Homo sapiens: one gene and its partner. The protein of the gene in region 2 purifies or fractionates together with the protein of the main gene of each other region. This does not show direct contact. Each region holds a gene or a part of one and is shown on either strand. Other genes may lie near its edges.

Evidence for each region. Proteins that work in one complex are often made in the same cells at the same time.
Region 1: the proteins of TOB2 (region 2) and CHAF1A purify together in Homo sapiens (affinity purification with western blotting, with the first as the bait; one study listed by BioGRID). This does not show direct contact.

Annotation. Positions count from the first base shown.
Region 1 is NC_000019.10:4,408,405-4,413,619, reverse strand, and holds part of CHAF1A (chromatin assembly factor 1 subunit A), read right to left. Parts: intron 4,718-5,215; coding exon 3,861-4,717; intron 3,116-3,860; exon of another isoform or gene 3,097-3,115; intron 1-3,096. UniProt on the Homo sapiens protein: Acts as a component of the histone chaperone complex chromatin assembly factor 1 (CAF-1), which assembles histone octamers onto DNA during replication and repair.
Region 2 is NC_000022.11:41,439,590-41,444,804, forward strand, and holds part of TOB2 (protein Tob2), read right to left. Parts: exon of another isoform or gene 4,523-5,215; intron 1-4,522. UniProt on the Homo sapiens protein: Anti-proliferative protein inhibits cell cycle progression from the G0/G1 to S phases.

The DNA of each region.
Region 1 (5,215 bases), on a different chromosome or scaffold from region 2:
TGGGACTCTCAATGCATATTTCACTGTACCAACTCAAGGAAGAACAGACCCCAGTGACAAGCACACAGATTACACGGCAGTGCGAAACAATCTGCAAGCTTCCCACCAGCTCGCCCCTGCAATCTGGAAAGAGCTGCTGGTAGGGAGGTAAAGTGCAAAAACAGTGTATTCCCCAGAGGAACAGGGGTTGTGGGAAGGGGGTGGCTTGGACGTCACGGCAAGGAAAGGTGTTAAGAGTTAGGTACCAACTGGCCAGGCGCGGTGGCTCACACCTGTAATCCCAGCACTTTGGGAGGCCGAGGCGGGCGGATCACGAGGTCAGGAGTTCGAGACCAGCCTGTCCAACACGGTGAAACCCCATCTCCACTAAAAATACAAAAATTAGCTGGGCCTGGTGGCGCGTGCCTGTAATCCCAGCTACTTGGGAGGTTGAGACAGGAGAATTGCTTGAACCCAGGAGGCAGCGGTTGCAGGAGCCAAGATCACGCCATTGCACTCCAACCTGGGCAAAAGAGTGAGATTCCGCCTCAAAAAAAATAAAAAATAAAAAAGAGTTAGGTACCAACTATGAAGCAAGCAAACCAACCAAACCAGAAATGCAGGACTCCTTAAAGGTTCGGAGATAAAGTAGGGGTTGGGGATGGAGTCTCTCTCAGCTGGGATCTCAGGGATCCCTGCCATCAGGGCATGAGGAGGCCTCCCGATAATCGCTTCCCTCATAGCTTCGGTGACTGACAGGCCCTCTGCGGGTGGTTGTGGCCGCTTTCTGCCATAGGCTCTGGGCCAGCCTGAAGCCTTTACCACTTGTAAATTATCTGAAAAGTTGGGATAATATTGCCTTCAAGTGCATCCCAAAACCTCGAGTCTGTGTTCAGAACAAGATCTAGCGTCCTAAATGCAGGGTTTCCTAAATGTTGCACACTGGGTTCATGTGCTCAGTTGTTTTAGAAAGCGGGCAGGATTGTGCCACCATGATGCCCAACGAGGGGACTTCCCAGTTTGCAGACTAAGCTGTGGACATGGAAACAAACTTAATGGAAACATGTGCTTGTGTCCTGTCCTTTTTTTTTTTCTTGAGACGGAGTTTTGTTCTTGTTACCCAGGCTGGAGTGCAATGGCACGATCTCAGGCCACCGCAACCTCTGCCTCCTGGGTTCAAGCGGTTCTCCCGCCTCAGCCTCCGGCGTAGCTGGGATTACAGGCAAGCGTCACCATACCCAGCTAATTTTCTGTATTTTTAGTAGAGACGGGGTTTCTCCATAATGGTCAGCCTGGTCTTGAACTCTCGACCTTAGGTGATCCACCCGCCTCGGCGTCCCAAAGTGCTGGGATTGCAGGTGTGAGCCACCGCGCCCAGCCATGTGTCCCGTTCTTGCTAAATGGCTCACATCACAGGACGAAATTTTGCAAAGCGGCAGCAGCCTGGAAGAAATTCAAGTGATCGAATGTACACTACAGGATGCCCAATGGGGAGAGACTTCAACTCTGATTTTGGGAGATTGAGTGGTGGATTAGGTAGAAGCTGAAATGTGTACATGCCAGTCTGGCACATTTAGTAACTTAGAAGAGGGTACTAGGCTTAGTACCTGAGTGATAAAATAATCTGTACAACAAACCCCCACGACAAGAGTTTACCTATATAACAAACCAGCACATATAAAACAAAGTAGAAGACTGGGGCGGTGGCTCATGCCTGTAATCCCAGCACTTTGGGAGGCCGAGGCAAGCGGATCACCTGAGGTCAGAAGTTTGAGGCCAGCCTGGCCAACATGGTGAAACCCGTCTCTACTGAAAAGATACAAAAATTAGCCAGGCGTGGTGGTGGGCACCTGTAATCCCAGCTACTCAAGAGGCTGACGCAGGAAAATCGCTTGAACCTAGAAGGTGGAGGCTGCAGTAGGCTGAGACCATGCCATTGCCCTCCAGCCTGGGCGACAGGGTGAGACCATGTCTCAAAAAAAAAAAAAAAAAAAAAGATTTGCACCATTTTTACAACATTTCATAAACCTAAAGAGGAAGCCATTTTTTCCTTTTTCATCTTCTCAGGTGAAAGACAAGAAATGAAGTCATTCAGAAAAATAAATGCTCTTGGCCAAGCACAGTGGCTCACGCCTATAATCCCAGAAACTTGGGAGGCCAAGGCGGGTGGATTACCTGAGGTCAGGAGTTTGAAATCAGTCTGGCCATCATGGCAAAACCCCGTCTCTACTAAAAATACAAAAATTAGCTGGGCATGGTGGCGGGTGCCTCTAATCCCAGCTACTTGAGAGGGTGAGGCAGGAGAATTGCTTGAACCCAAGAGGCGGAGGTTGCAGTGAGCTGAGATGGCGCCATTGTACTCCAGCCTGGGTGACAGAGCAAGACTCTGTCTCAAAAATAAATAAATAAATGGTTCCTTAGAGCTCAAAATCCCGAAAGCGAACAAGGTTGGTGGTTTATGGTCCAGGTGGTCTACTGTACCTGCTTACAGGTACAGATTAAATGACCCATCTCAGGATCTACTACTCTCATATAAAGACCCAACATGAACAAACAAAAGTGCTACAAAACCAAAAACATAAAAAGGCACTGTCTCTTCTGGTTCTACATACTTAAGATAAAAAGTAAAAAATTATAAAATCAAAAGACACCACTAAACACCGTGGGACTCGTGACTGATTTTATCAGTTTGGTCCCTAAGACCTTAAGGACACCATTGTGCTAATAAAAAATCAATAACAGAGACAGACCATGCAAAAGTCCCCCTTATGGGGTCCTTAAAAATGGTTCCAGATGGGGTCTCGCTCTGTCACCCAGGCTGGAGCGCGGCAGTGTGATCATAGCTCGCTGCGGCCTCCAACTCCTCAGCTCAAGTGATCCTCCTGCCTCAGTTTCCCAGGTGGCTGGGACTACAGGCATGTGCCACCATGCCTGGATAACTTTTAAAAATTTTTTTGCAGGGCTGGGTGCAGTGGCTCATGCCTATAATTCCAGCACTTTGGGAGGCCAAGACGGGCAGATTACTTGAGGTCAGAAATTCAAGACCAGCCTGGCCAAGATAGTGAAACCCTGTCTCTACTAAAAATATAAAAATTAGCCAAGTGTGGTGGTGCGCACCTGTAATCCCAGCTATCAGGGATGCTGAGGCAGGAGAATCGCTTGAACCTGGGAGGTGGAGGTTGCAGTGAGCCGAGATCACGCCACTGAACTCCAGCCTGGGTGATAGAGTGACTCTGTCAAAAAAAAAAAAAAAAGTAATTTTTTTTCATAGAGATGGTGTCTATGTTGCCCAGGTTGGTTTTGAAGTGATCTTCAAGCGATCCTCCCACCTCGGCCTCTCAAAGTGCTGGGATGACAGGCATGAGCCACTGTGCCTGGCCCCAGGTAAGGTTTTTAAGATGGCTGGCTGTGCTGACCCTACAGAATTCCCCAAGTCATGCTTCCTGCCGTCTCACTGCCACTTCAGTGCTCAGTGTCTTTGCAGCCCCGTCCCTACATTTCTATGCTTAGACAGGAAGGGCACAGAGAAAGCTGGACCTCGAATCTGAAGTGAGGGGTTACAGCACCAGCTCAGATCCTAATTCCCTAAAACGGCTAAGCTATCACTGATTAGATGTGAACAACGAAGGCAAAACAGCAGGGTGTTATTCACACAGTACACCAGGTACACTGTTGATGAATTAAGTCCCAGGGGCATCACAACGAATGCAGAACTGAACACTGTGAGTTTTGATACCAGGAAGAACTCCACGTCGAGTCCCAGGACCCAGCCCGTGGCCCCGCTCACTCTGCCACAAAACACCTGGGTGACCCAGTGGAGACTGACAGCGCTCTGAGATCCGTGAGCACTGATGTGCAGGGACTCCATGGGAGATACTCACTCTGCGGAGGGGCGTGGAGGTGGGGAAGGGACTGGTACTGCTGTGCTGCTTTGGGGGAGCAGGCGGCCCCTCGGGCGAGCTGGTGGAAGAGGGAGAGCTCAGGGACGAATGGCTGAGTACAGAGTCTTCTTCGGGGAAAGATTCCAGCACCTCACTCTCAGGGGTCATGTTCTTGCCTTGGGGTGTGGCTGGAAGGGACTTGATTTGCGGTGGTCTCACAGCCAAGATGTCCTGCAAGACCACCATAGGCACCTTCCCTTTGAACAGGATGCCCCCAGCTTCACTCCAACTGTCCTGCTCCTTTCTGGGGCACATTCTCGGGCCACTCGTCAGCTCCGGGCAGCTCCGTGGCGAACATTCCTGGGAGTCGCCTCTCCTCCCTGCACCTCCACAGCCAACACCCTCCTCCTCTGTTTTGCAAGGAATGTCTGAAAGGGTCTCTCCAGGAAATGCCAACTTGTCGTTCTGAATGGCCTTCAACAACCCCTGCTGATCCCCAGTGTCTTCTCGCTGGCCATTTATTGCCTCCCTGGAGGGAGAGGCTTCAGAATTTAGTTTATTGTGGTCCACAAGACTGTCTGGCTGCTCATTCGAGTCCTCTGTCAAATCAATGATGACTGTGCTCTGGCCAATACTGGTTTCGATTCTATTTCTTAAAAAGTTATCTAAGGGACCCTTCCCGTTGACAAGTTTCGGTCTAAAGTCTATGTCAGAACCCACATGACAGTTGTTTTCCAAGGTGTCCAAAGAGGCCTCTAAATCGGGGCTTTTACTTTGCACAGAAGTACCCTGATCGTCTGACATGTCATCGGCTTTCCCCTTTGGGACAAGATTCAGGCGCTTAAACGGCAGACGGGCTGAAACAAAGACAGAAAGCCATCTCTAGTGAACGTTTAAAGTTACAACCACTCATGAGCTTGAAAATTACTGATTTGTTGGGACATGGGGGTGGGAGATAATTTTAAAGTTTAAAAAGGGACTATCTGGGCCGGGTGTGGTGGCTCATGCCTGTAATCCCAGCACTTTGGGGAGGCCGAGGCAAGCAGATCACAAGGTCAGGAGTTTGAGACCAGCCAGACCAAAATGGTGAAACCCCGTCTTTTCTAAAACTACAAAAATTAGCCAGGCCATGGTGGCACACGCCTGTAATACCAGTTACTGAGGAGGCTGAGGTAGGAGAATCGCTTGAACCTGGGAGGCAGAGGTTGAAGTGAGCTGAGATCCCAACACTGCACTGTAGCCTGGGCGACAGAGACAGACTCCCTCTCAAAAAAAAAAAAAAAAAAAAAAAAAAAAAAGGCCGGGTGCGGGAGGCCAAGGCAGGCGGATCACAAGGTCAGGAGATCGAGACCATC
Region 2 (5,215 bases):
ACTGCAACCTCCACCTCCCAGGTTCAAGTGATTCTCGTGCCTTGGCCTCCTGAATGGCTGGGACTATAGGTGCCCGTCACCACGCCTGGCTAGTTTTTGTATTTTTAGTGGAGATGGGGTTTCACCATGTTGGCCAGGCTGGTCTCAAACTCCTAACCTAAAGTGTTCCGCCTGCCTTGGTCTCCCAAAGTGCTGGGATTACAGGCATGAGCCAACACACACGGCCTTAAGGGGCATTTTTGGGACTAAATCCTCAGAAAAAGATTTCTGGGGTGAATGTATCAGAGAAGACTCACTGGGTCAATCTGGAGCAGCATGACAGTGGCTGAATCTAGTTAACCCTCATTTCAGTTCTGAGGAACAGAGAAGGTCACATGGGAGTCAGCAGAGGTACCACAACTATGCCTCTCCCAAACCCTCCACAAGAACACTCAGGACTCAGAATACCCTGGTTTCCCTCTTTTCCCAGCCTCCAACACAGACTTCATCTCTAAGTTTCTTCAAATGTCTATTTTTTTCTTTTTCTTTCTTTTTTTTTTTTTTTTTGAGACGGAGTCTTGCTCTGTCGCCCAGGCTGGAGTGCAATGGCACGGTCTCGGCTCACTGCAACCTCTGCCTCCCCGGTTCAAGCGATTCTCCTGCCTCAGTCTCCCAAGTAGCTGGGATTACAGGCGTGCACCACCACTCCTGGCTAATTTTTTTTTTTTTCAGTAGAGACGGGGTTTCCCCATGTTGGCCAGGATGGTCTCGAACTGCTGACTTCGTGATCCACCCACCTCAGCCTCCCAAAGTGCTGGGATTACAGGCATGAGCCACCGCGCCTGGCCTCTTTTTCTTTTTTTGAGACAGGGTCTCACTCTGTCACCCAAGCTAGGGTGCAGGATCACAGCTCACTGCAGCCTCCACCTCCCTGGGCTCAGGTGATCCTCCCACTTCAGCCTCCAAGTAGCTGGGACTACAGGCATGTACCACCACACCTGGCTTTTTTTTTTTTTTTTTGACATGAAGTCTCTGTCACCCAGGCTGGAATGCAGTGGCGTGATCTCGACTCACTGCAACCTCTGCCTCCTACGTTCAAACAATTCTCCCACCTCAGCCTACTGAGTAGCTGGAATTACAGGCATGCACCACCACACCTGGCTAATTTTTGTATTTTTAGTACACACGGGGTTTCATCACGTTGGCCAGGCTGCTCTTGAACTCCTGGCCTCAAGTGATCCACCTGCTTCAACCTCCCAAAGTGGTAGGTTTACAGGCCTGAGCCACCATGTCCAGCCTCATTTTTTTTTGTATTTTTATGTAGAGATGGGGTTTTGCCATGTCACCCAGGCTGTTCTTGAACTCCTACGCTCAAGTGATCCACGTGCCTCAGCCTCAAATGTCTATTAATGATCAATACAGACCAATTTCAGGGCTTTTTTGGGTATAAAAAGTAAGGATAGTAGAGGCCGGGCACGGTGACTCACGCCTGTAATCCCAGCACTTTGGGAGGCCGTGGCGAGTGGATCACAAGGTCAGGAGATTGAGACCATCCTGGCTAACACGGTGAAACCCCATCTCTATAAAAATACAAAAATTATCCAGGCGTGGTGGCACGCAGCTGTAGTCCCAGCTACTCGGGAGGCTGAGGCAGGAGAATCGCTTGAACCCAGGAGGCGGAGGTTGCAATGAGCTGAGATCGTGCCATTGCACTCTAGCCTGGGTGACAGAGCAAGACTCTACCTCAAAAAAAAAAAAAAGTAAGAATAGTAGAAAGAATAAAGGGCTTTCTGTTTATGAGGATCAGGCTCATCAGCAGATACAAAACTACCCACCAGAACCATGAGCCTTCTCTCAGGAACAGAGGTCTGAAGGGCCACATAGTCCATAGAGGTGTCCAACAAGGAGCAGACTAAAAAGTTGTGAAGAGCCAGGTGTGGTGGCTCACACCTGTAATCCCAGCACTTCGGGAGGCCAAGGCAGGTGGATCACTTGAGGCCAGGAATTCAAGACCAGCCTGGCCAACGTGGCGAAACCCCATCTCTACTAAAAACACAAAAATTAGCCGGGCATTGTGGCTCATGCCTGTAATCCCAGCACTTTGCGAGGCTGAGGCGGGTGGATCACAAGGTCAGGAGTCCGAGACCAGCCTGACCAACATGGTGAAACCCCGTCTCTACTAAAAATAAAAAATTAGCCGGGTGTGGTGGCACACGCCTGTAACCTCAGCTACTCAGGAGGCTGAGGCAGGAGAATTGCTTGAACCCAGGAGGCGGAGGTTGCAGTGAGCCAAGATTGCGCCACTGCACTCCAGCCTGGGCAAGAGTGATTTTTCTCAAAAAAAAAAAAAAGAAAAGAAAAAACCCCATAAAAATTAGCCCAGCATGATTGCGGGTGCCTATAATCCCACTACTCCGTAGGCTGAGGCAAGAGAATCGCTTGAACCTGGGAGGCAGAGTTTGCAGTAAGCCGAGATCATGCCACTGGACTCCAGTCTGAATGACAAAGTGAGAGAAATTCTGCCTCAAAAAAAAAAAAAAAAGAAAAAAAAGTTGTGAGGAAAGTTGATACTGGTTCCCTAGAATGGAACCTGTTGTTAAAGACAGTGTTTCCAAAGTATTTTTGAAATCTAAAACAGACTGAAGTCAACATATGATACTTCTCCCAAGGTACTGCATGGCCTCTTAAAATGCACCTCTTGGTATTTCCACTGAGAGCAAAGGGTTTCTACACCTTTCTAAGCCTCCTCAAACCTGGCTGCATAATTGCCTTCCAAGTTAACTACTCCTGAACAGTTCGGCCTCAAAATGAGAGCATTTTAAATGCAGGCCAAAGTCATTGGGAAATAAGCCTCCCACCCCAAAATACAATAGAACCACTGTCATCAGCCCTGCCTAGCTAACCATTTTCTGCAGCATAAGCAACTAAAGCTGCACACCAATTTATACCTCAGTGATGTTGCCGCACAAATAAGGAAGCATATAATGCCACCTTTGCCTCTTTAATTAGAGAACAGGCTGGACCAGATGGCTGTGGGGTGGAACCTTACAAAAATGATGGACAACCAGAATGAGATTTTCTGCTCTATCAGCTCAGGCTCTAATTTTGACTGCAAGAAGCTTATGGAGCAGAGGATTAAAGCACTGGTGCTGGCTTGTCTTTAGCTAAAGATAGGAGTGGCCATTCAGAGGAGTTTGTTCATTTTTTAAAAAGCTATGAACAAATTCTAGAGCTTATATATAAAATATTTATGGAAGTATGGTAAGATTAGAAAGCTTAGAAATAACTACCTGTCAATAAAGGGAACAAGTAAAGGGATTCGCTTAAGTGGCTGCAGAGGACACTAAGATCTTTTCTAACCCCAGTGTAGGCACAAACGGCGAAAAAGGGAGCAAGAAGAATAAAAATGGTGAGGTGTTTAACAATAGCAAAATCTCCCTTTTGTCAACCTATTAAAAAGGGCAAATATGAGAGCAAAATTCTGTCCAATTTCACTAAGAATTTTATCCTCACTTGTTTACTTCCAGCAGCAAAGTTAAACCTGGATTCTGATCCCTTGTGCTGACTTGTGTTTTAAAGAGCAGGTGCCTAGGAGAAAGACGACGGGGGAAGAAGTGGGGCGTGAAGCTCAAAAGAAGCCTCAGTCAGTGCAGATTCCAGAGAGAACTTCTGATAAAAATGTGAGGAAGGTGTGTGTGTGTGTCACACGCGCGCGCATGTGTCTGCCTGCTCTAATGTCAGAAGCGAAGGAAGATTTTTTTCCCCCCCTCGAGACAGTCTTGCTCTGTAGCCCAGAGCTGGAGTGCAATGGCGCCATCTTGGCTCACTGCAACCTCCGCCTCCTGGGTTCAACCAATTCTCCCGCCTCAGCCTCCCGAGTAGCTGGGATTATAGGCACGCGGGACCACGCCCGGCTAATTTTTGTATTTTTAGTAGAGACGGGGCTTCACCATGTTGGCCAGGCTGGTCTCGAAATCTTGACCTCGTGATCCGCTCGCCTCCGCCTCCCAAAGTGTTGGGATTACAGGCGTGAGTCACTGCCTAGCCAGAAGATTTTTTTTTTTTTTTTTTTGAGATGGAGTTTCGGTTTTGTTGCCCAGGCTGGAGTGCAATGGCGCGATCTCGGCTCACCGCAACCTCCGCCTCCCAGGTTCAAGCGATTCTCCTGCCTCAGCCTCCCGAGTAACTGGGATTACAGGAATGCGCCACCACGCCCGGCTAATTTTGTATTTTTAGCAGAGACGGGGTTTCTCCAAGTTGGTCAGGCTAGTCTCGAACTCCCGACCTCAGGTTATCCGCTGCCCGCCTCAGCCTCCCAAAGTGCTGGGATTACAGGCGTGAGCCACCGCACCCGGCCGGAAGGTTTTTCAGAAAGAAAATTCTGTTTCAAAGAGGAAAAGGAGGGATAATGGTGATGGAATCCACTGAGCCCCAAACCCAAAAAGATACTCAGACACCTCTAAGCCTTAAATGTGCAAACTGTCCTACAATGACGGACTACAGGACTCAACTAAGTGTGGAGGGGCCAGCAGGTGTCACAGACCGGGTGGATGCGAGTGCCCTGCCGCTGTCCGGGGAGTGAGAGCCAAACGCAGGCAGCTCCTCTCCTTGGTGAGACACGGGATCCGCCCCAACTCGCTGGTCCCAGAGGCAGCGGCCCAGACAGGCGGGTGTGTATTGAAAGGCTTCCAGGACTGGTGCTGACTGACTGCAACACCGCGCCCAGTCTCTCATCATCTCCCCCTAGACACAGACCGGTCAACCTTAGGTCTGACAACAAGGCCCCTTTCGGCTATGAAGACCCTTTCTAGGGCACTCCATGTTCCTCAGGAGCTAGGAAAACTCGACTCAACCCAAACGTAGGCGGAGAGGCGGGCGGTGAGGGCCCGCTCTGCACTCTGGGAATTGTAGTCCTCAAACACCTCCGGACCAGGCGATAGCAGGAGTGACCTACTTTCCCTGCACACTACACTTCCCTGAGCACTTTGCGAAGGCCCAACTGGCCGCAATACGCATGCCCGGTAAGGGGAGCCGACCGAGGGTCGAAGAGCCCAGGAAAAGTTTCCGATGCACATGCGCGCTGAGGCGGGTCGGCGCCCCCCTCCCATCGCCTAATACATTTCATGTAGATTCTACCCAAAAGGCCTACTCCCCGTATTGTATGGCCCCACCACATCCTCTAGGCTTTACGAGAGCCTAACTTTCCCACCTTTCCCTTCATCGCCTCCCATTACTG